Regions from separate parts of the Homo sapiens genome. Here region 1 is linked to region 2. Evidence: fine-mapped expression QTL. A gene starts in region 2. The other region holds a variant in brackets. All regions are shown on one strand. Distances are between the middles of the regions.

Region 1 (11,524 bases), 26 kb after region 2:
TGCAGCAGCATAAGGAAGAGAAGAGAGGCTGAGAGGTGGGATGACCTTGAAAGCCCTTTGGAGGCTGAGTTGGTGTTGCTTTGTGGATGTAGATGGGGAAGGATGGTAGCGGTCAAGGCTGACACCTGGATTTCTGTCGGAAACAGAACCTCCTGTTGAAAGGTGCCGTTCACTGGGATGGGAAAGATTGAAGGGGAAGCAGCTGGAGAATGGGGAAAAGGTGGTGGGTTTAAGATGCTGCCAAGAAAGGGTCCAAAGGGAGATATCTGTGGGTAGCTGGACACCGGAGCTGGAGCTCAGGAGAGGGCTGGAGCTGCAGGTTTGGGCATCGTTGCCTTCTTTGTGGTAATAAGCTATGCACATAGACACACTTGTTAGGGAGAGGGTGTAGAGAAGGCAAAGGGCTCTTACAAGAACTTGAGCTCATTGAAGGCTGCTGGGAGAGGGCTGGATGGTGGCAGGGAAGGGCTGAAGATCAAGATGGAAAGGAATAGTTGCACCTGGAACTCTGGGGAGATGAGATCCCACCTCCAGGATCTGAGTCGGATGGTCTGTCCACAGGTATGTGCTGCTGCACCATGTGATGGGGGGCCTGGAGGGAATGCAGGGGGCCTGGGGCTACGTCCAGGGGGGCATGGGTGCCCTCTCTGATGCGATCGCAAGCTCAGCCACCACACATGGAGCAAGCATCTTCACTGAAAAGGTGAACGGCCCCTCTACCCCACCCCAATTATTAGTAAGGATCCCAGGACAGAACAAAGTCTCAGATTTGGAAGGTCCCTTGTTTTACCAATGAACAGAGGGGCCATGAGGGGATGGGTTGCAGAATCAAGAGATTAAGGTCATGCAGTCTGTTAGTGGCTAACCACCCCCTTGGAATTCCCTGGTCACTGAACTGAGACTGAGTGTTTCATGGAGAAGCTGAGGCTTCATGGAGAAGCTGCAGAACTTGGTGGGATGGGTTTGGGATGAAGAAGTTGTGAATGCCTAGGAGCAGCACAGACCATGGAAATCCCGGAAGATCTAACATGGATTTCCCTTCCTGCGGTTTCTGGGGCCTTGTTCTGGTGGGCTCTAGACAGTGGCGAAGGTGCAGGTGAACAGTGAAGGCTGTGTTCAAGGAGTTGTGCTGGAAGATGGCACAGAGGTGAGAAGCAAAATGGTGCTGTCCAACACATCACCGCAGATCACCTTCCTGAAGCTGACGCCACAGGTGAGGCTGTGGGCAGGAGGGTGGAGCTTAGATGTCTGCCAAAACAGGGGTTAGAAATCGTGGGGATTGAGGGAGCCAGGATTGCATCAGGGTGTGAGATGCAAAAGCCAAGTCTCTGCATTTGGGAAACAGGGGGGTAAGGGCAGGTAGCAAACGGGGAAGAAGCCTCACAGGTGGGGAGAAGGGGCCAGAGAGGTGAAGTGACCAAGATTCCGGCCATTGGCAGAGCCAGAGCTAGAACCCAGGTCTGACTTTCAATCTAGAGTTATTTCCACAACTTTCCTACTTTCCTGATTTCTCCCCTCTCACCGCTCTAATTCCATTGTCTTTGTCAATGATCTGTTATATTATCCATGATTATTAATTAATCAATTAACAAAGAGCCACAATACTTCTGGGCATACAACAAGAAATACTGGCACCCAGAACTGGAGACTTCAGTTGATCTTGGTGGATTTCAGCTGCTTAAGGCTTGCTCATGCGTCTGCAGTTGGCTGTGGGTCAGCTTGCCGGCTGCTGATCTTGGCGGGACTCCTTCATGTGCCTGGGAGCTGGCTGGTGGTGGCTGGTCCAGGACCGTTTCTGCTGGGATGACCGGGTGGGGGACTCGGCTATGCTCCATGTGTCTGTCCTCCTCCAGCACGGTAGTCCAGGCATGTTCTCAAGGTCTGGCAAAGGGCAAAAGCAGGCAAGCTCAAGCATGCATGCAAGCATCACATGGTTTGATCTCTTTGCATCCTGTTTGCTAGCATTGGCCAGACCAAGTCTCATGGCCAAGCCTAGAGTCAGAGTGTGAGAGCACTGCAAGGTTACACGGAAGTGGGTGTGCAAACAGGGAGGGGTGAGCTTTGGGGGCAGTTTTTGCAATTGACTTACCCTGTGCTCAAAAGATATGATAACATGTATACGCACATGAAGCTCCTAGCCATTCTTGGGGGCAATTCTTAGGGGCAAAGCACTACTTTTTCTGAGTGATTCCATTACTAAAATTCAACAAACATCAGTAAAAAGAAACTTGTTAAGGCAATTCTGAGATCGTCGAGGCTTCCAAGAGCTTACAGACCAGTAGTGAAAAGAGGCCTGCAAACCACTGACCCCTTTGCAAGCAGGGAGAGGTGCGGACTATTTCACAGTCAGAACTGCTGGCCAAGCGCGGAGGAGGAAGTGGTTAGAGCTGAGTGGGAGGGGATCTAGGAAGGCTTCACAGGGGAGGTGGTTTTGGCTGAGCTTTGAAGGATGAAGAGGATTTCCGGAGGGAGCGACTGAGGGATCTTCCTGAGCAAAGAAAGAAGGCAGCTTCCTTGGGGCCTTGGACATCTGAGGCCTTTCATGGAGCCTTCTCCTTCCAGGAGTGGCTTCCTGAGGAGTTCCTGGAGAGAATCTCTCAGCTGGACACCCGGTCGCCTGTCACCAAGATCAATGGTAAGAGGCACACCACATTGCAGCACTGTCTCCTTTGACCCATCTGAGTGAGAAACCTCCAGGCTGGGGGCAGCTGAACTCAGTCATCATCTCCATTCCCGGACCTCCAGCCTGTGTCCCCCTGCAGCCTGGTCAGAAGGTGAAACACTTGCTCATACTTTCCTACTCCCGTCCGCCACTGAGGGTAGCAGGGTGCTGGCTGTAGAGGGAGGACCTTGTGGGGCTAAGACCTGACCCTCCTCTTTGGTCCCTCAGTGGCCGTAGACAGGCTGCCCAGCTTCCTGGCGGCCCCCAATGCTCCCAGGGGCCAGCCGCTGCCCCATCACCAATGCTCCATCCACCTGAACTGTGAAGACACCCTCCTCCTTCATCAGGCCTTTGAAGATGCCATGGATGGCCTGCCTTCCCACAGGTAGGGGCCCTGGACTTTATGTTCCCTGATGTTCTTCCACATGGGCCTGGGAGGCGGGGCTGTCCATGCCACCCACAGCAGGGATCAGGCCTGGTGTTCAACCTTCACAGTGACTTAGGATCTGCCAAAATCCATACTCCTAAGGACAGGAAGTGCATCCCAGGTGAAAAATCTGAGGATGAGGGCAGGTAAGGGGTGAAGAGCGGCTCAGGTTAGCAGAAGGGGCAGAGGGGCAGAGCACTGCCCAGGAAAGTGCTGGGGCTGGGGAAGAAGAGGAGAAAATGTGTTCTGGGAGAGCAAAGGAAGTTCTCTCATTCAGAGCCCGTCAGAGAGCACGCACTCACCGAGTCCCCTGCTCCGTAGCCTTTCTTTTTCTGATAATCTGCCTTCTTGCAAAACTTCTAAAAGCATTTCCCACCTCCCACTGCAGCTGTATTTCCATTCTTCTGGAACAGGCAGGGGCGCTATAGGAGCAAGTGCCTTTCCATCCTGTCCGCTGTCCAGCACACACTGTTGAAAACCTACTCAGTGCTGGACTCTGTACTGGGTATGGGCTGGGAGAATTAGCGGGGCAGGGGCATGAAACTGACACAAAGCTTATGATAGGACAGGTACACAAATATTTATAGCATGTGGTAAAGAAGATGTGCGCCTGGAAAGAAGGGTATAGGGCAAAGTTCATTCATCCATTTATAAATATTCTGGGGTCTCTATTCTGTGCCAGGCTTGGTTCAGTGAGTGGGCACAGATCAGCAAGCAAAGCCAAGAAAGTCTCAGGTCGTTGACTCTCTATCCATGAGAGGAAGACAATCAACAAGTAAGCACTGATGATGAGCACTGTGGAGAAAAATAGGCAGGGAAGGGGAGGAAAGGCTTCTCTAATAACGTGGCACTTGAGCGGAGACCGGAAGGAAGTGAGAATACAGATCTTATGGGTATCTGGGGAAAAAACGTCCAGACAGAGGGAAGGTCAGGTGCAAAGGCCCTGGGGCAGGAGTGTGCTGCTGTATAGGAGGCACAGGGACGAGGCCAGAGTGGCTGGAGAGAGAGCACCTGGGAATGAAGGGTCTCGGATGGTGCTGGGTCTTGTCAAGTGCCCTGGCTCTTACTCCAGGAAAGTTTGTGCAGAGCCTGCCTTATGCTTTAAAAAGACCAACCTGGACACTGTATGCAGAAAAAGTTAAGGCATCTGTTGCAATGGGTTACTGTTGCAGAATCCAAGGGAGAGAGGACAGTGGCTTGGACAAGGGTGGGGGCAGGGGAAGTGATGAGAAGTGTTGGAAGACTGGGTATGTTTTGAAGGTGAAGCCAACAGGACTTTCTGTTGGATAGGGAGTGGGATGTGGGTCAAAAAAAGGAGCGACTGTGAAATGATGCCTCCATTTACTGAAAAGAGGAAGAGGCGGTGGGGGTGGAGCAGATTTTAGAGGCTAATCAGGCATTGGGGTTTGAACAGGGGATGTTTGAGATCCCTGGTGGACATCCGAGTTCAGCGAGAACATTGCAGCTGAGGGACGCAGGGAGAAGGGGCATTTCCCGTGGCCTTGAAGGAGACTCATATTTGGAGATCAGAGGGAGAACATGCTCCAGGTAGAAAAGGTGTGGCAGGCAAAGGTGGTGGGGTGGGAAGCAGGTCACAGCTCTGCTGGGGCTCGGGGCAGCCCTAGCAGCTCTGTCTTCCATTGGTCTGCTCTGGAAAAGACAGTCAGGCCACTAAAGCCTGGCTGAAATCTGGCTGCTTGGGCGCCTGCTGTCTTAGGCCTGGCCCCTTTCCACACTCCCACTGTCTGTGTGGACCTTCGAGACATTTGCGTTTGGGAGCTGTGGTTAGAGCACAGCGTGTGATGAAGGCAGGCAAGGACAGGCCATGCATTCGGGGGTCTGGGGTCAGGCGAGCTCCTCACAGGTGCTCTGGACCACGCTAGCAGCCGCTAAGCCCGTGCAGGTGGACAACCACTGTGGCTGTAGAGCGACAATCGCCCAGAATTGGTGTCATCTCAGGGCCTCCACTGTGTCCCAAGTCATCTCGGATGCCCTACCCTCCGCACTGCTGCTCTTTAGACCTGCCGTCTCCTCCCTGCCCGCACAGGCCTGTGATTGAGCTCTGCATCCCTTCCTCGCTGGACCCCACCCTGGCTCCCCCTGGCTGCCATGTAGTCTCCCTCTTCACTCAGTACATGCCCTATACGCTGGCTGGAGGCAAGGCCTGGGACGAGCAGGAGAGAGACGCTTATGCAGACAGAGGTAAAGACAGCTGCACGTTCTGCCTCCAGAGCCACAGCCGGGCATGCGACCCAACTGGGCCTGCTCCTCCTCACTGCCCCATTCAGGATTGACAACTGCAGGTGCCATTCCAAAGGGAGGAAATAGTCAAGGGAACCTCAAGTCAACATAGTTGACTGCAGGGGTCAGGAACTGGGCTAAGAAAGTCAAGAAGACACAGTTCCTGCCCTCCAGTTGCTCACAGTCTAGCAAGGGATGGAGGAGACTAATTAAGAAACCTTTTATTACAGCACAGCTGACTGCACGAACCAAAGGAGACGCATGAGCCAGAGAGACAAGGAAGGCTTTCAAAGGAAGGGATGGTCAAGCTGGGTTTCCAAGGATGACTAGGAGCTGGCCAGGCAGCAAAGGGCATTCCAAGCAAGAGAAACAGCTTGATCAGGCCAGGCGTGGGGGCTCATGCCTGTAATTCCAGCACTTCGGGAGGCCGAGGCAGGCGGATCACCCGAGGTCAGGAGTTCAAGACCAGCCTGACCAACATGGTGAAACCCCGTAGCTACTAAAAACATAAAAAAATTAGCAGGGTGTGGTGGCACATGCCTGTAATCTTAGCTGCTCAGGAGGCTGAGGCAGGAGAATCGTTTGAACCCAGAGGCGGAGGTTGCAGTGAGCTGAGATTGCGCCACTGCACTCCAGCCTGGGTGACAGAGTGAGACTCCGTCTCAAAAAAAAAAAAAAAA[AAAAAAAAAAC/C]AGCTTGAGAAAAGTGAAGAGGTGAAAAAAGCTGCATATGCAAAAGGAGATCAGCAGCTTCGTGTTTAAGGTTGGGGTAGGGAAGTGGGGAAAACTGGGGACTGGACTGGCCTACCCATGCATCTTTGGGATGAATTAATCATTTGCTTGTGGACTGATTTTTGTTTTTCACCTATTGAGGTATAATTTGCATATGATAAAATAAGCCCATTTCTGTGTGTAATTTAATGACTGTTAGTAAATTTGCCAAGTTGTACACCCATAGTGCCTCCTCTTCTTCCTAACACCATCTCATTTCTCTGTTTTTGGCACCCCAGTGTTTGATTGCATCGAGGTCTATGCCCCTGGCTTCAAGGACTCTGTGGTTGGCAGAGACATCCTCACACCACCAGATTTGGAGAGAATCTTCGGGCTTCCTGGAGGGGTATGTATAAGCCTAGGGGGTCTCTCACCATAGCCTTCCCTCTGCACCCTCACTTCCTGGCTATGACCTCTCTGCTTTATCTTGTCCCTCCATACTCAGCTTTCATCAGGAAGGGAGGACAGTGGCAGGGACCCCGGCTGAGAGAGGGCAGAGAAGCGGTCAAACCGAGGGAATGGGGGATCCCTAGTGGGGGCTCAGAAACACAGGCAGGACAGCCCCCACTGAGAAGGTCACCAGGATTGTGGCCCTCTGCCTTGACAACTATGCTGGCTCTGCCATCTGACTTTCTTGAGAGAGAGCACCCCCTTCTCAAGGCAGCAGCACATCCTCAGACTTGTCAATTTATCAAAAACTAGAGATTGGAGACAGGGAGACCAGATAGGAGGCCAGGTTCAATCGCCTCATTGCAGCTACTGAGCACTTGAAAGATCAGAGACCACCCTAGGCAACGTAGTGAGACCCCATCTCTACAAAAACAAAAACCCCGCCAGGTGTGGTGGTGCGTACCTGTGGTTCCAGCTACCCAGGAAGCTGAAACAGGATGATCGCTTGAGCCCAGGAGTTTGAGACTGCAGTGAGCTGTGATGCGTCATTACACTTCAGCCTGGGCAACAGAATGAGACCCTATCTCTAGAAAGAAAATTTAAAAAAAAAGCAAAAGAAAGATCTGAGGCCAAAGTGAGATGTGCTGCAAGTGTAGAATGCACACAGTATAGAAAAAAATGTAAAATATCTCATCAATAAGTTATATATTGATTACATGTTGAAATTATAATATTTTGGATATATTGGGCTAAATAAAATATATTATTGACATTAGTTTCATCAGCTTGCCCTTCCTTCCTTCCTTCCTTCCTTCCTTCCTTCCTTCCTCCCTCCCTTCCTTGTTTCCTCCCTCCCTCCCTCCCTCTCTTCCTTCTAGAGATAGGTCCTGTTCTATCACCCAGGCTGGAGTGCAGTAGTGCAATCACGGCTCACTGCAGCCTCGACCTCTGGGGCTGAAGCCATCCATCCTCCCACCTCAGCCTCCTGAGTAGCTGGGCCTACAGGCATGCACCACCACACCTGGCTAATTTTTTTTTTTTTTTGTAGAGATGAGTCTCCCTGTGTTGTCTAGGCTGGTCTCAAACTCTGGGGCTCAAGTGATCCTCCCACCTTGGCCTCCCAAAGTGCTGGGATTGCAGGCATGGGCCACCACAACCGGCTCTGCTTTTACTTTTTAAATGTAGCTACTAATAAATCAAAAACTACATATGTAGCTCCCATTACATGTTCACTGAACAGCACTGGTCCAGGTATAGAGGAAAGAAGGCCAGGCAGCGGGAAGGAAGGGAATGGCTGGGTACAGCAGGCATGGGGCGGGCAGACTTGAGAAGCCTTGGTGACAGTGTGCACATAGGAGTCAGGGTGGAGGTGATGTGAAGGGTAGGCACAGAGGCCAGGGGGAGGAAGGTGGTGTCATTCACTTATGCAGGAGGATGGGGAGGAGCAGACTCGAGGGAAGAGGATGGCCTCAGTTTGGGGAAAGGTGAAGAGGGCAGTGGGGGAGCACTCCTGTGAGGATGCCCAACAGACGTCAGGCTTCTTGTCCAGACCTGCCCCCTGAGTCTGACCTTCGCTTGTCCCATGCTGCCTCCCTTCTCAGCCTGGGGCTGGTCTCACCCAAGCCAGGGGGGCAGAACCGTGCTCGGGCTCCGTTGCCCCTTGTCTGCCATTCACAGTGATCCTGCTGGAGCTTGGACACCGGGGTCCGGGCTCAGGTGGATGCCTTGGCCAGAGAAGGGAGTTCTCGCAGAGACGCATGCCAACAGCCACAATAAGTCAGACAATTCTGTTTTTCCAACAGAGGGAGAGGGATGCAGAGTAGAGAGCAAAACCCTCTTTTCCTTCCCGTTCAGTTCGTGTTCCCCACCCTGCTTTCTTCCTCAAAAAGCCTCTGGAAAACTTCACTCCCAGCCCCAGGGCATGTGCCCATTCCGTCTCATCTCCTTCCCTTTCTGCATTTTAAAACCCAAGAAAATATCCTGGAAGGAGAAGAACATTTGCTGAAGAACAGGGGAGGGGAAGAAACCCAGCCAGAGCAGGAAAGGCTGTAACTCTCCTGTGCTGATGACTGTGGCCCTGCCTCTGCAGAACATATTCCACTGCGCCATGTCCCTGGACCAGCTCTACTTCGCCCGCCCCGTGCCCCTGCATTCTGGCTACCGCTGCCCTCTCCAGGGCCTGTATCTCTGTGGAAGTGGGGCTCATCCTGGTGAGTGACCTGGAGTCCCACTACCCTGTGGGGACTGGGAGGGCTCACTGGAGGCCAGAGACTTGGAGAAGGAGGAAGTTAAGCAATGAAGGTGGCAGAGAGGGAGGGGAGCAGGGAACTCCCAACATAAGCTGCCCTGTGTTCAGAATTATCCATGCACAGGTGAGCACACAGCCGCTGCCTCCACCAGGCTGACCACAGCCCACAGTTGAGCTCACACCTCCCCTTCAGGAGGCCTGGGGATGCATCCTGGTGGAGGCATCTCACCACATTCCAATGTGGGGTTGTGAGAGACCCATGTCCCTAAATTCCCCATCCGTATATATATTTAGACAGGGCTTCACGCTATCGCCTAGGCTGGAGGTGCAGTGGTATGATCACAGCTCACTGCAGCCTCAACCTCCTGGGCTCAAGTGATCCTCCTGCCTCGGCCTCTGGAGTAGGTGGGACTACAGGTGTGTGCCACCATGCCTGGCTAATTTTTTATTCTTTTGTGGAGATGGGTTTTGTTAGGTTGCCCGGGCTGGTCTCGAACTCCCGCGCTGAAGTGATCCTCTCCACTCAGCTTCCCAAAGTGCTGGGATTAGAGGCCTCCATCCATATTTTAGACCAGGAAGGATGGATAAAGTTAACTTCTTCAACTTTACAATTCTTTCTTGTGCGCATTCCAAGCCTAACGGAGCTGGCTGAGGCTATTTGCTATGCACACTTTCTCTCAGCTGTGTAGACTTGGTACCCTGGAAAGAGTCTGGGCTTACACATCTTCCCCCTCCCCCCAGCCCCTTATTCTGAAATTTTAACTTCACTTACTAAGCGTGTGCCCATCCAGCACGTCCACCCTCAGCCGTTGAGACTGTGGGCTGTGGACCTGGCCCCTCCCCAGACCTTTGGTGCAGGAAGCCTGGAGGGAGCCAGAATCTATTGAGCGGCTGTCTTAGGTGATTCCAGTGCCCATGCCCCCGGACCCCTCTAACCAGCCCCACTCTGCTTTGTTGCTGGATCTCTGTAAGCCCTGTCCCCACCCCCACCCTGGCAGGTTTTTGAGCGGAGCTTTGGTTCATAGGAGATTCCCTTCCAGGAGGAGGTGTGATGGGAGCTGCTGGGCGAAATGCAGCACATGTGGCCTTTAGGGACCTCAAGAGCATGTGACCCTGAACCAGCTCTGACCCAGGAAGAAGACTCCACCCCTGAATTCCAAGTGCTCCATTGGATCAGCTTCCCAGGAAGTTCAGCTTCGGGTTAGTACATAAGGCCACCACAATGCTCAAGAAATTATTTTAGAAAAAACGTACGAGTTACATTTAGTGCAAGTTGACCTTATGCCCATGCCTCCATACATGGACTGGTTCTGTTTTATTAAAACTAATATTTCATACAGATTATTTTGCTTGTATTTTTTCTCTGTGTTAGTTGGTGGGATAGACTTCTCTGGGGTACTCATAATTCTTACATCAGCTAAGAAGCAGTCCATTTAAAGGCCAGGCATGGTGACTCATGCCTGTAATCCCAGGACTTCGGGAAGTTCAGGCAGGCAAATCACTTTGAGGTCAGGAATTCAAGACCAGCCTGGCCAACATGGTGAAACCTCATCTCTACTAAAAGTACAAAAATTAGACAGGCATGGTGGCGGGCGCCTGTAATCCCAGCTGCTTGGGAGGCTGAGGCAAGAGAATCACTTGAACCCAGGAGGTAGAGGTTGCAGTGAGCCGAGATTGTGCCACTGCACTCCAGCCTGGGCGACAGAGACTCCATCTCAAAACAAAACAAAACAAAAAACAGTCCATCTAACCAGTGGAAGAGTCTGATCCAAGCATCCCCTGTCCTTGCCTGGGACCCCCACTACCAACAATTGGAGGACTGCCCAGGTGGGGCCCAGTCAACCGCTGTCACATTCCTGGCAAGCTATAAGAATGGACCCAATTTCCCCATGATCCACAGAGTCACCCTCAAAGGCCACGGTCCTGAACAATGCTGGGCATCTCAAGCCACAGAATCCTCCAGTCAGGCAAAAAGCAGCCAAGGGTGACTGCAAAGTGGATTCCACTGAGGCCGTCTGGGAGCCCGGTCTTCCTGATTCCAGAGCATTCAGGCTTCTGCCTCCCATGAGCTAAGTCTGTTGCATCACCAACACCTTTCAATATAAACCTCTAGAATTCTAAAGAGAGTTGAATTGTCACCCTTGTCCAGGAAAATCCATCCAGAGTTCCCGTGGTAATGCAGCCCTCCCAGCCAGCTTCTCCAGTTCCAGCAGCCAAGGCCACAGTCCAAGCCGTCCCATCTGCAGATAAGGCAGGATCTTCCCTGGGAAAGCTTCCCTTCCTCCATTTCCTGGGCAAATTTATACAGGATCAAATAGATCCACCTCATTACTTAATGTTGGTAAACTCAGATTTCTCAGCTGTAAAAGAGTTGTTTTAAAGCTCACATCAAACAATAGATCATGTTTCCATCCAGTATCTAGCACATGATAAGCATTCAGTACATGGTGGAGCTGCTGCTGTGGCTTTTATTGATGAAATCGTTTTTGTCGTTTTTGTCATTTTTGTATTCTGCAGAAGGTGATCTTTTCTATATACTTTTTAACCTGGCACCCAGAATTGAAACTAGCCCCCTAGAAGCATTGTGACCAGGACAGTGCAGAACAATGTTTGGATCCCCAAGCTTTTTCGAAAGTAGCCAAGCCCCCTCCCTCATTCAGCATCAGGACCATCAACTTCTTGATCTTGTTGAAAATTTGTTTTTGGTCAATATTGCTGGTTTTCTGGAAGGAAAGAAGGAAGACAGGGAGAGAGGGAGGAAGAATGAGAGAAAAAAAGGGAGGGAGGG
Region 2 (10,973 bases):
ACCGAGGCTGTAAGTGAGGAAGCCGGAGCCCAAGCTCTGCTCCCCCGGCCTGCAGGCTCCCAGCTTTCCTCCGTGCCCTCAGAAGTGCCCAGGACGTGTGTACAACAGAAGTGCTAGAAAATTCCTGTGACCTTTACCTTCACTTCTAGGGAGGGACAGGAGTCTGTGTGCTTGGGTGGCCCCGTGGGGTGATAAAGTGAGGCAGAGCTGTGGGCTGGAGAGGCCAGGTTTGAATGCCAGCCACACAGCCCAGCCGGTGCCGTGGGGGCAGCCCTGCACACTAGGGAGTCCACTCCCCCTGCAGGGCAGGCCACGGTGCCCAGGCAAGCATCAGCTAAGTGCCATGTTCATGCCTGGCACACACGGCACGTCCAGCAGATCTTAATTCCCTTCCCCACCTTATCCCACCCTGGGAATTCCCAATTCTTTCAGAGCAGAGGCTTGGGCCTTTTGTGAATGCTCTGCTCTTCAAGACCTGTATGACAGCCCTGCAGGGTGCCCTCCTGAGCGTGTGTTTGTGGCCTGTACAGGTCCAGGTATTGACGGTAATGAGAGCTACCCTGCCGGCCCTTGAAGCTTTGTATACTTTTTCTCTAATGTTCATAAGGTGACTGTTGTCATTCTGACTTCAAAGATGAAAAAACAAGGTCCAGGCATTTTCCCAAGCACCCAGCGCACATGACAGAGCCAAGCCAGGCCGCAAGCCCGGTGCGTCTGACTCAGGCCCTTGCACTACCCCCACACCCACTGCCTCCCTGTCCTCCCTCCTCAGGGGTACAAACTCCAGATGATCGAGGTGCCCGTCCTCTCCGACGACTCAGTGCCTATCGGCATGCTGGGAGGAGACTACTACAGGTGACGCTGCGTTGGGAGCCACTGGGGACAGATGCCCCCATTTGGGTGATAAGTGCTCGCCTCTGCCGGGAGCAGCTTCTGCTTCAGCAGTGCCCTACCTCAGACCCAGAAATCCACGCTGGGAACACCTTCCCGGCTGGCCCTGTGTGCAGCGAGGGAGGACGGGTGTGGAGGGTACATCTGTGTTCCTACCACCTTCCTGCTGGCATGGTCTTGGCAGCACGGGGAACGTCTGTGCCCGGCCCAGAACATCCCCACTGCTACCTCGTAGCCAGGATGCCACTGTTAGGTCAGTGAGGAACCGGAGCGGTTGTCAAGGCCCACATGCAGGGGCCTAGTGAGATGACCGAGGGCATGGGCATTTGCTTGCGAGGGCCCAGAGAGGCCTCTGGCGCTGGAGGAGTGCCACAGCCTCACTCCTGAATCCCATCCTCCCCTTCCTCCCCAGGAAGCTCCTGCGCTACTACAGCAAGAACCGCCCAACCGAGGCTGTCAGGTGCTACGAGCTGCTGGCCCTGCACCTGTCTGTCATCCCCACTGACCTGCTGGTGCAGCAGGCCGGCCAGCTGGCCCGGCGCCTCTGGGAGGCCTCCCGTATCCCCCTGCTCTAGGCCAAGGTGGCCGCAGTCTGCCTTTGCATCCTGTCCTCCAGCCACCCTTGCTTGCCACTGTTCCCCATGACGAGAGCCTCCTGTCTGCAGTGGCCATCCTGAGGATAGGGCAGAGTGCCCAGGGTGGCCCCAGGGCTTCTAAAACCCCACCTAGACCACCCTCCATGTCAGGTACTGAGCAAGGCCCCAGATCCTTCTCTCTGGAGGAAGAGGGAAGCCCAGGGGTCCTGTTTGTAAAACAACGGTGGCAACAGCTCCTCTTCCAGAGCTGCCTCTGCCTTTATCCTGGGAGATGGGGAGGAAGCCCCATCTCTGCTGTTCCCTGCGTGGAGGAAGCCCACCCAGCAAGCTCTCTCCTACCCCAGGTAAAAGGTGCTCCTTTGCCTGGGTTTGAATTCCAGCGCTGCCACTTCCTCTCTGCACCTCCTGGCAAGTTTCTTCTATTCCCCACGTTTAAAGCGATGGCACCTCCGTCCCAGGGTGGTGTGAGGATTACCCAGTGTGGTAGGTGCTCAATAAATGTTGGTCATTGTTATCACTGAAGCCCAACATGCTAGTGCTTCTAGACCCTTCTGTCAGTGCTGATAAGCCCTTGCTAAGTCCCAGCCCCTTCATGCTTGGCTGGCGTCTGCCCTAGGGCTGGGGTTCTCAAGCCCCTGGCCCTGGCCCAGAGATTTGGATTCCCTTGGCGGCCGTGGAGCCCAGCCTTTGATGTCTTTCAAAGCTTCTGTGGTGCGCCCTGGATTGAGAACCACCACCCGAGGGGTACAGCCCCTCTCTTCCAACCGAGAAGTTCCTGTCCCAGAATGGACCCAGGGACAAGAGACCCTGAGAGCCCTGGGACTGGGAGTGTCTGCTCCTCTGAGGCCAGGAGGCCGGTGCTGGGCCAGAGAGGACGGCGTGGCGAAAGTCAGCGTCCACTGCAGCACAGGATCAGATGGCCGTGTGCTGTGCATGCAGGAGCCTCGCCTTCTGTGTCTTTAGTCTTGAGCCAAAATTTGCTCAAAGACTGATCTCTTCCTTGCAGGGAACAGCTTTGGGGCTGGGGGAACTAGAACCCACATGTTGGTCTAAACCCTGAGAAGGTGGCAGTGAGGAAGTATCCCCTCAGGTGACTGGATCTGTGTTCCTCCTTAACATCATCTGATGGAATGGCAATGAAAAGCGTGGATTGTGGAAAATACAGAAAAACATAAAGGAAAAAACTCCAATCCCCTGAGCCCACCACTGTTCAGGACCCCTGCTTTTGTCACCTACTATTTCCCTTTAGTTTTTAGCAGCGGCTGGATGTGATATGTCTAGTTTAACCAGTCCCCTTGATCTTTCTATATAATAAATAACACAGGAGTGAACATCCTGAATCAGATCTTAGCAGAGATGCTCACATGCGGGGTAACTGTCCATGGTGTGTGGAGGGGTCCTCGGAACCCCCTCTTAGGATCATCTCCACATACTCTCCCAGTTCTGAGATTCGTTACCAATAGCAGGTTTCCGTCACACTGCGATATCAGAGCAGTGCAGGAACTCTCCGCTCCAAGGGGTTTTTTCCTCCTAGGGGAACACTCTGCTAAGTAATGGGCAGAGAACAAAGGGGCTCCTAATTCAAGGCAGGCCTAAGGGAGGGTCAGAAAGAACTTTAGCTGGAGGTATTTACAGATGTGACCTCGAATCCTTGGGGATTCTTGGAAAATGGGCAAGGTGCCAAAAGAGGAGAACTGGCCAGGCCTTCAAAACTAAAACACCAGAGAATTACAGACAGCGAACTTGCCCCTAAGCCCTCGTTGTGGGTTTGTGTTTGAGCATTTAGGAGAGGACTCCAGTGCTCCTCAGCGACAGACACAGCTGCCTCTGCGGTGTCTGAAGGCCCTGGTCGTGGTGACGCTAGATGGCCGCCCTGGGCGCCTCCTGTGGGCGTAGAGGCATCACCACTCTGCACTGGCAGACTCAGCATGGAGTTGGAGCAGAGTCTGACACGAGCACTTGCCATCCCAGGCGTTTCAGTTCTGACTGAGAAGGTAGATGCACAGGGGAGGAGAGGGCCCTTTCGAGCTCCACTCTGCCTCCACCACTCATTCCCTAACCCCGCAGCCTCAGCGCCCTCATCTGTAAAATGGGGAGTTTTGCCTACAGGGTTCAGCACAATGCCAGCCTGACATAGGAACCCCAGTGGATTGTCAGTTTTGCCATTATCCCCTGCATCCTGGAGGTGACACCGCCTGGTTAATAGGCAACACTCCCGACGGCCCAGCACAGCCCCAGGGCAGCAGGAGGCTGGCCTGTGGCCAAGAATGCATGGTGGAGGGGGCCTGGAGGGGGACTGCAGCTCCTCCTCTTCCTGCTTCCTCCCTGCTCCACCCCGTGCCTAGGGCAGCACAAAAGCCAATCGCTAGCAAACTCCCTGCCTAGCAAGGCCCAGCCTGGGGCAGAAATGGCTGCAAGTGGCCGAGGTCTCTGCAAGGCTGTGGCCGCCTCTCCCTTCCCGGCGTGGAGACGAGATAACACGGAAGCCAGGGGAGGTCTGAAGCCTGAGTATGATGCGGTGGTGATAGGAGCAGGTAAAGTGGTAAAGCAGGCCGGGCCAGAGCTGAGGGGCGGGAAGACAGCCCTGCTCAGAGCTTGGTGGGGAGGGGGAGGGGGAGCCAAGCCCCACTGCTCTCTCCTCTGGCATAACCCAGCCAGAAGTTTATACGCTAGCAGGGGCTGCAATGGAAAGCCCTTCCATCTGGCAGGCAGGCACCTGGGATTCCGGTGCTGGCTCTGCTGTGTGGCCTGGGGCAAATGCTTGCCTTCTCTGGGCTTGGATCTTCCCATGGAGAATGACAGGAAGACTAGGTGAGCTCAGGGGTTTCCCTATATCTCTTGCAAAGTGACCTAGTTTCCACCACATTCTCAGCCTATGGTTTGTAAGGGTTGGAAAGAGCCCTGGGCCAACAGACAAGTGAAATCCAGCACCCCGCCCCCTCAGTGCCCTGAGTTCTGGTCACCACTACCTTACCACTGAGGCCACCCCTCGTCACAAGAAACTGCAGTCATTTCATAAAGGCCAGTTAGGATAAAACAGAACTGAGTCCCAGAGTTCCTACTGCGTGTCTGCAGAGGGAGATGGACCCCATTGCCTTGCAGCTCTGGGACATTTGGGGATCTGCAGTGATCTGCCACACTTTGCCAACCCCTGGGCTCAGAGTATCACAGTCTACTGGGTGCTAGGGGAAGAGGCAGGCCCAGGACCAGGTGGTCTTTCCTTAGTGCCTTCCTTTCACACTTGCAGAGGGCCCCAAATGCATGATTGCCAACTGGGTCTATACAGAGATAATGACGGGACCGAAAGCAGACGGCACTCAACATGCAGCTTTGAGGGCATGCCTTCATTTTCATATGTACTAGAGCAGTTGCGAGCTGGTAGATACTCAACACTCACCTCTCCAGGGAAAAATGTGTGATGTATGTGTGTGTGTACATGTATATATATGTATATATACACACATATATGTGTATATATATGTATATGTGTTACGTACATATATATACACATATACACATGCTTATTTTAAATATTGAAATAAAAGATACACTGCACACAATTTTACAAATAAAGATACAATACTCTCAATTTAAATGCAGTCTACCCGAGTGATTCTTACCAAAGGCTTTCTTTGATTTTTGCCAAACTCAGTAGCCAACCTATAGTTGCAAATGACAAATGAGGGTAGCTCCAAAGAGAACGGTGCTCCATATTTTCTGTAAAGAGTAGGATGATCGTGAAACAAATGAAACAACAAAGATTTATGTCCCAACCTTACTCCTTTATTTTTTAAAATTTATTTTTATTTTATTTATTTATTCATTTATTGAGATGGAGTCTTGCTCTGTTGCCCAGGCTGGAGTGCAGCGGCGCAATCTCGGCTCACTGCAACCTCCGCCTCCTGGGTTCAAGCGATTCTCTTGCCTCAGCCTCCCGAGTAGCTGGGACTACAGGCGCCCACCACCACGCCCGGCTAATTTTTGTATTTTTAGTAGAGACGGGGTTTCACCATGTTGGCGAGGCTGATCTCAAACTCCTGGCCTTGTGATCCACCTGCCTCAGCCTCCCAAAGGGCTGGGATTACAGGTGTGAGCCACTGCGCCCGGCCTCCTTCTTTAAATGACAGGAATGATGTTACTCAAATAAGATAATATTGTTCTAATACTAGAATATTTCCTTCAATTTTTGTGCTATTTATTCATGCTATAACAGCTAACACTGTTAGGTTTAATCTGCATTATTAGCATTTTCCCATCACTTTCTTAAGCCTGACCACAAAAAATAAATTCAGCCCTTCTGTGTAATATTTGCTGATGACAGTGGTGTAAATACTCCCACCATAGCCTTTTCTGTTACCAAGATGAGGTTGCTCAATGTGATTTAGGAGAGATACCCAGTAGCACATCATTGTATAGTGTGTCCACCATGCAGATATGTACATAGAGGCCAGTGACTGCCAGGGCATGGGCAACAGTCAAATGTAGTAAAACAAATAGGAGGTAGTGTGTTTTGAGTATTTATTACCTTTGTTTTTAATTTATTTAATTGTAAGCTTATATAATTTAGTTTATATCAATGGCTGTTTGACAGCCGGCTCACAAACTCCCCGGGCTGGTGGGAGCCATCTCCAGCACCTCACTTAGCCTCAGAGAAGCCCCCTGCCTCCTTCCGTGCTCAGCCACAGCTCACCCTGCTGTCTCCTAATGGGGAAGGTTGACTTTAGGTCACCAGCTGCCTTGGTGACTTGCCTACAAGTGCGAGTGAGTCTCAGTGTGTGAGCTTTTCCTTGACATGATTTCTTTAGTTGCTAAACATACCATAAAGCCTGGTTTAAAGGCATCTTGGGCCTCAGTGAGGAACAGAACGGCATCTTCTGAGACAAGGGTTACCTCTGAGTCCCTGAAGGCACACTGGCACCTGGCCGCCACCTTGAAGATGAATCTCATTTAGTCATTTGACTAAATGTGCCTGAGAGTGACTGAGGGGGCTTGTTAAAATGGAGATTCCTGGCCCCATACCTGGTGACGAGCATTCTGAGGGCGGGAGGTGTCTCCCAGAGGTCAGCACATCCACCCAACCAACACTGCCTGATGCAGGCAGCTGCAGAGCCCACGCCCAGAGCAGCTCCTCAAGGGCCCAGGCGCCTGCTATGGGGCCCCTGAGGCAGGTCTGGGGATTAGCAGAGCCCGCAGCTGAAGTCCTCTTCAAGGGAACAGAGGTGTCACCAGAAGCCAAGGAGGGCTCAGCCAGGACTTGAGGGTGGTCACTGGGAGGGGGTCTTGTGCTTTGGATCCTTGACCTTACTCATTTGAGGTCTGCCATGATTGAACTGGACCCAGTTGCCTGGAAGACTATGAGTTTTCCAAGATCGATCATCAGCACCAATTAAAAGACAAATAGCTCCCATTTATCTCATCCTTGCCACACTGCAGGGTCCCTGGCACCCTCTGTTCCCCATGTGAAGAAACTCAAGGCTCAGGGCAGCTGATGACTCTCTGAGGTCATGCCCTGGCAAATAGCAGAGGCTGGGCTGAGCCCAGGACTGTCTGCCTTTAGTTTGCTGCATGTCTTTGAGAGACAGATTCCATCTGTTCATGAGTCCCACTGGCGGATTGTTTAAACTTTCTTATGAACATTTTCAAAAGCCCATACAAATAAAGAGTATGTCAACCAGCACTTTTTAAGATGAACTGTAACCAACTAGCTTCTCACATGCTTCTCATATGGTAAGAGTTAATTTTAGCTCATGAAACTTTTGGTTCTGTGAAACACCTGCTGAACAGACTCCTGGGAAGGGGGTCTGTGGGAGTCGACATTTATACAACCTTCCAGGTGATTCTGAGCTTATCAGAGCTGGAGAGGCACTTGCTACCCAGGGGCTTGGTGTGGAACGTGAGATGCCAAAGCCAAATTCAGGCCTCTCAGCTCAAGGCACCCTGAAGCACAGCTAGTCACTCCAGCACATGTTGAAGCTGTGCATGTTTACTTCATGTTGAACTGTTCATGTTTTATTTTTGGAACACTGGGGATTGGCAAAAAAAAAAAAAACCCATGTGAATAAAGCCTTCTAGGGCACCACTGTGCCGATTGTGAACCACACGTGGACAAAACAAGCCGCGCTTGATAGCAACTACCTACATGACCAGCACTCCCCTGGATGCTGATGCTGCCATGCGAGACGGGACGTTGGCGCAGCAGCATGCCAGCCACCCATTGCTTCTCCTGCTTGCCAACTCAACCGTGCTGCTCCCTCAGACACCATCACTTGCGCCTCCCAAGCAATGGAAGCCCTGGCGATGCTCTCATGAGCCCCTCACTCCAGCAGAGCCCCTGACCAAGCCAGGGGAGCAGGACTTTTCCAGCCAAGGCAAGAACCAGGGTTTTCTGACTCCTTGAAGATCTGGTGTTTCATGGAGTTGAACTAGATGCTGTTCCAACATCTGAGTGCGGGAAGGGGAGGGGAGGGTCACCAAGGATCTTCATGGCATGGGGACGGGCAGCGGGGAGCACATTCCTCAAGGACTGTCTGTCTGCCCGCCCGCTGACCAGTGATGTTTTCCTTCCCTGTCCCGTTTTGTTGCAGGACACAACGGACTGGTGGCTGTGAGTACCTCCCCACTTGATCCCACTTCACTGGCCCTGGGCGTGTGGCTCTCAGCAGCCTGGGAAGGAGTGTGAAGAAGCAGGTGGGATAAGGGCCTTGAGAGAGAAGGAAAAGGCAGCCTAGTCGATGCTCTCTGCTCTCCAGTGCTGACTGGGGGCTGGGTCGAATGCTCATCTGCAGCCAGCTGTGGACATCACAGGCTCCTTTCCTCCCCTTCCCCTAATGGGGAAAGGTGGTTTCCCCATGGCCTGTGAGGGAGTCAGGGAGCTTCCAGAAACAAGCTGACAAGGTGGGGAAGCATGTAACCAACACAGCATGAGAGCAGGTGGGAACCAGGGGATTGGGCACCTGGGGCGGGGTGGGGGCCCTTGACTCCAGATCATAGGCAGCCCTTGTGTCTAGAGCCCTGTGTTCCCAGCCAGGTCCAGGCCAGGTACCACCTTGGAGTACATAGCTGCTATGTGGCCAAAGTGTGCCCTGGAGACATTGAGGAGCTCAGTCTAGCAGAAGGGCCTGTGCCCTGTCCCCAACACAACTGACTTCAAGATCCCAAACTGAGCTGGATATCCCAGAGCTATCCTTAGCTTATGCTTCTGTAACCTGAGTCCAGATACCTCCAGGAGGCCACAGAAGGCATTCAAGGCCACAAAACAAATGTGGAACATCTTCTTGAAGCAGCAGCAGCTCTAGAACATCAATATAGGGGGAAACTGTGGCTGTGCTAACGGACTGATGTTAAACCTTAATACTTTGCCTGATGTCTAAGTTTTACTTGAACATTTTACGTGCGGCATTTTGTAACTCAATGGATCAGTAATTTAAAACATTTATTTTATTTTATTTTATTTTAATTTTTTTTGAGACGGAGTTTTGCTCTTGTCACCCAGGCTGGAGTGCAATGGCATGATCTCGGCTCGCTGCAACCTCTACTTCCCGGGTTCAAGCAATTCTCCTGCCTCAATCTCCTGAGTAGCTGGGATTGCAGGCAGCCGCCATCATGCCTGGCTAACTTTTGTATTTTTAGTAGAGACGGGGTTTCGCCATGTTGGCCAGGCTGATCTCGAACTCCTGATCTCAGGTGACCCGCCTGCCTCAGCCTCTGAAAGTGCTGAGATTACAGGCGTGAACCACCACGCCCGGCCTGATTTTATATTAATATAAACAAAGATTCATCTCCCAGCTCTGCCACTTTGTGAAGGTTAAGGTGTCACTTAGCCTCTCCGAGTCACGGTAAAATGGAACAATGGCACCTGCCCTCACAGAGCTGCTGTGAAGGTAATAGATCATTTGCTGCTAGGACCTGGCACATGCAGCCTTGCCCAAATGGTGGCTGTTATTACTGGAAGTTTCCAGGCCAAGGAAGGCTGGCATCCACAGCCCTTCACCCAAAGCCCACCAGGAACACACTTGTAGTTAGTCTAGTTTGGTTTCTTGCTCTTTGCAGCGAGGGAACTCACATCAGGGGAACCTCGGGTTGCCTCAGTAGGAAGGTGTTAGAAAGAACCTAGCACAGGATTTGAGCTTTGGTGATTTGAGGGAAGGCCTACGAAAATAGGGGTTGCCACAGATTAGATACTGTCAGGAAGGAGGGACAGCCCTGCAACTGGGCAGCTCAAGAAATCTGATCTGTAGGGAGGAGAGACGAGTGTGCAGAGAGCAGTAATTGATAAAGAAGTAGCAGTCACTCATTTCAGCCAAGAGGGGTGTTCGGTATTTTCTGGATGGCACAGAGACATTGCTTTTGTTTGTGCTTGCCTCATTTTATCATAGTCTCATAGAAACCTTATTTGAGGTTGTCAATCTGTGAGATCGTTCCTGTGTAATAGGAGAATGACGCAGCTCACCTTGCGTGCCAGGCCTCAGCCACTGAGTGACAGCTGCTGTTTCTTTCTCAGTAGGTTATGATAGGAGGTTATGTTAGGAGGATAGATGCTGGTTTCACGCTGTCTGGTTTCAATTCCCAACACCTCTACTCATCAGCTCTGTGAGCCTGAGGCAAGCTGTTAACCTCATTGGGCCTCAGTCTTCTCATCTGTAAAATGGGAGAATCATAGTACCTACCTCTTGGCTGGTGGGAAAAATTAAACAAGACAATGTACTCACTGCTTCTGGCACATAATAGCTGCCAAGTGAGCTTTTTGAAAAGTCCGACTTTTGCATGGCACCATTCCTGTGGTCACAGGGCCAGCATTTTAGATCGGTAGATTCATGACCAGTTTGGTTCAACAAATATTTATTGATTTTTCCACTAAGTGCTAGAAAAAAATTAATAGAAATCCTTGCATCATTTGTTCTCCCAAAATAAAGCTCTGCTATGAACCGCTTCATTTACTGAGTACATTCTCTGTGCCAGGGACCACTTAAACCCTGTCTAGGAACCAGCTCAGTTAATCTTCACAGCAGCCTTATGAAGTGGGTAAAGCCGGGACTACTTTCATCAGCCCCACTTTTGCATGTGAACAAACTGAGGCCAGACGGATCAGGTACTGAGGCTGCAGCAGCAGAGAGAGAACGAGGGACTGAACCTGGGTGGAAGGGTCAGCATTCACAAGTTCCACCTCACTGTGCTGCGCTTGTAGGAGAAATGAGGCTGGCTCCCTGCCTGGAGGAGAGCGACATCCCAGGGCAGGGTGGCAGGAAGCAGCGTGAGTCCCCGAGGCACCAGGCCTCTAAGGAGGGAAGACCACTTTCAGCTGGGAAGTGGAGGGGCGGGAGCAGGCCTGTCGGATCTTAGAGGACATCTAGAAAAGGCGAGGGTGGAAAGGGAAGCACAGGGAAGGGCATTCCCAGAGGCAGGAACAGCATGAGCGGGGCAGGGAGGCCATGGGGTGTGGCCCATACTGGCCTATAGTGAGGACCTTAGTCTGCGGGTCAGCCCGAG

Which allele goes with the higher level. Positions count from the first base shown, and alleles are read on the strand shown. Sizes are in standard deviations (SD) of each study's normalised expression.
With allele AAAAAAAAAAC in place of C in region 1, the expression in prefrontal cortex of the gene that starts at base 3,848 in region 2 is lower (small effect, 0.31 SD a copy in BrainSeq).

What was found. PIP is the estimated chance that this variant, and not a neighbour inherited with it, causes the effect.
Region 1: its variant is fine-mapped to the expression of PYROXD2 in prefrontal cortex (BrainSeq, PIP 0.95).

What each region holds. Positions count from the first base shown.
Region 1 is chr10:98,382,121-98,393,644 of GRCh38, reverse strand. PYROXD2 (pyridine nucleotide-disulphide oxidoreductase domain 2) reads left to right here. Exons shown (of 16, transcript NM_032709.3): 9 at 562-703; 10 at 1,079-1,213; 11 at 2,563-2,635; 12 at 2,891-3,047; 13 at 5,137-5,291; 14 at 6,338-6,444; 15 at 8,578-8,698; 16 at 9,777-10,077. The coding sequence ends at 9,847. Among named protein-coding and RNA genes, the nearest start is that of MIR1287, 7.4 kb to the left of the region's middle. RefSeq lists an enhancer at 2,088-2,137. The variant AAAAAAAAAAC/C (reference allele first, on the strand shown) is at 6,011.
Region 2 is chr10:98,408,057-98,419,029 of GRCh38, reverse strand. It overlaps PYROXD2 (pyridine nucleotide-disulphide oxidoreductase domain 2), which reads left to right and starts at 3,848. Exons shown (of 16, transcript NM_032709.3): 1 at 3,848-4,021; 2 at 8,072-8,091. The coding sequence starts at 3,895. It overlaps HPS1 (HPS1 biogenesis of lysosomal organelles complex 3 subunit 1), which reads left to right. Exons shown (of 20, transcript NM_000195.5): 19 at 773-855; 20 at 1,304-2,832. The coding sequence ends at 1,466. RefSeq lists a silencer at 9,612-9,812 and an enhancer at 9,819-10,018.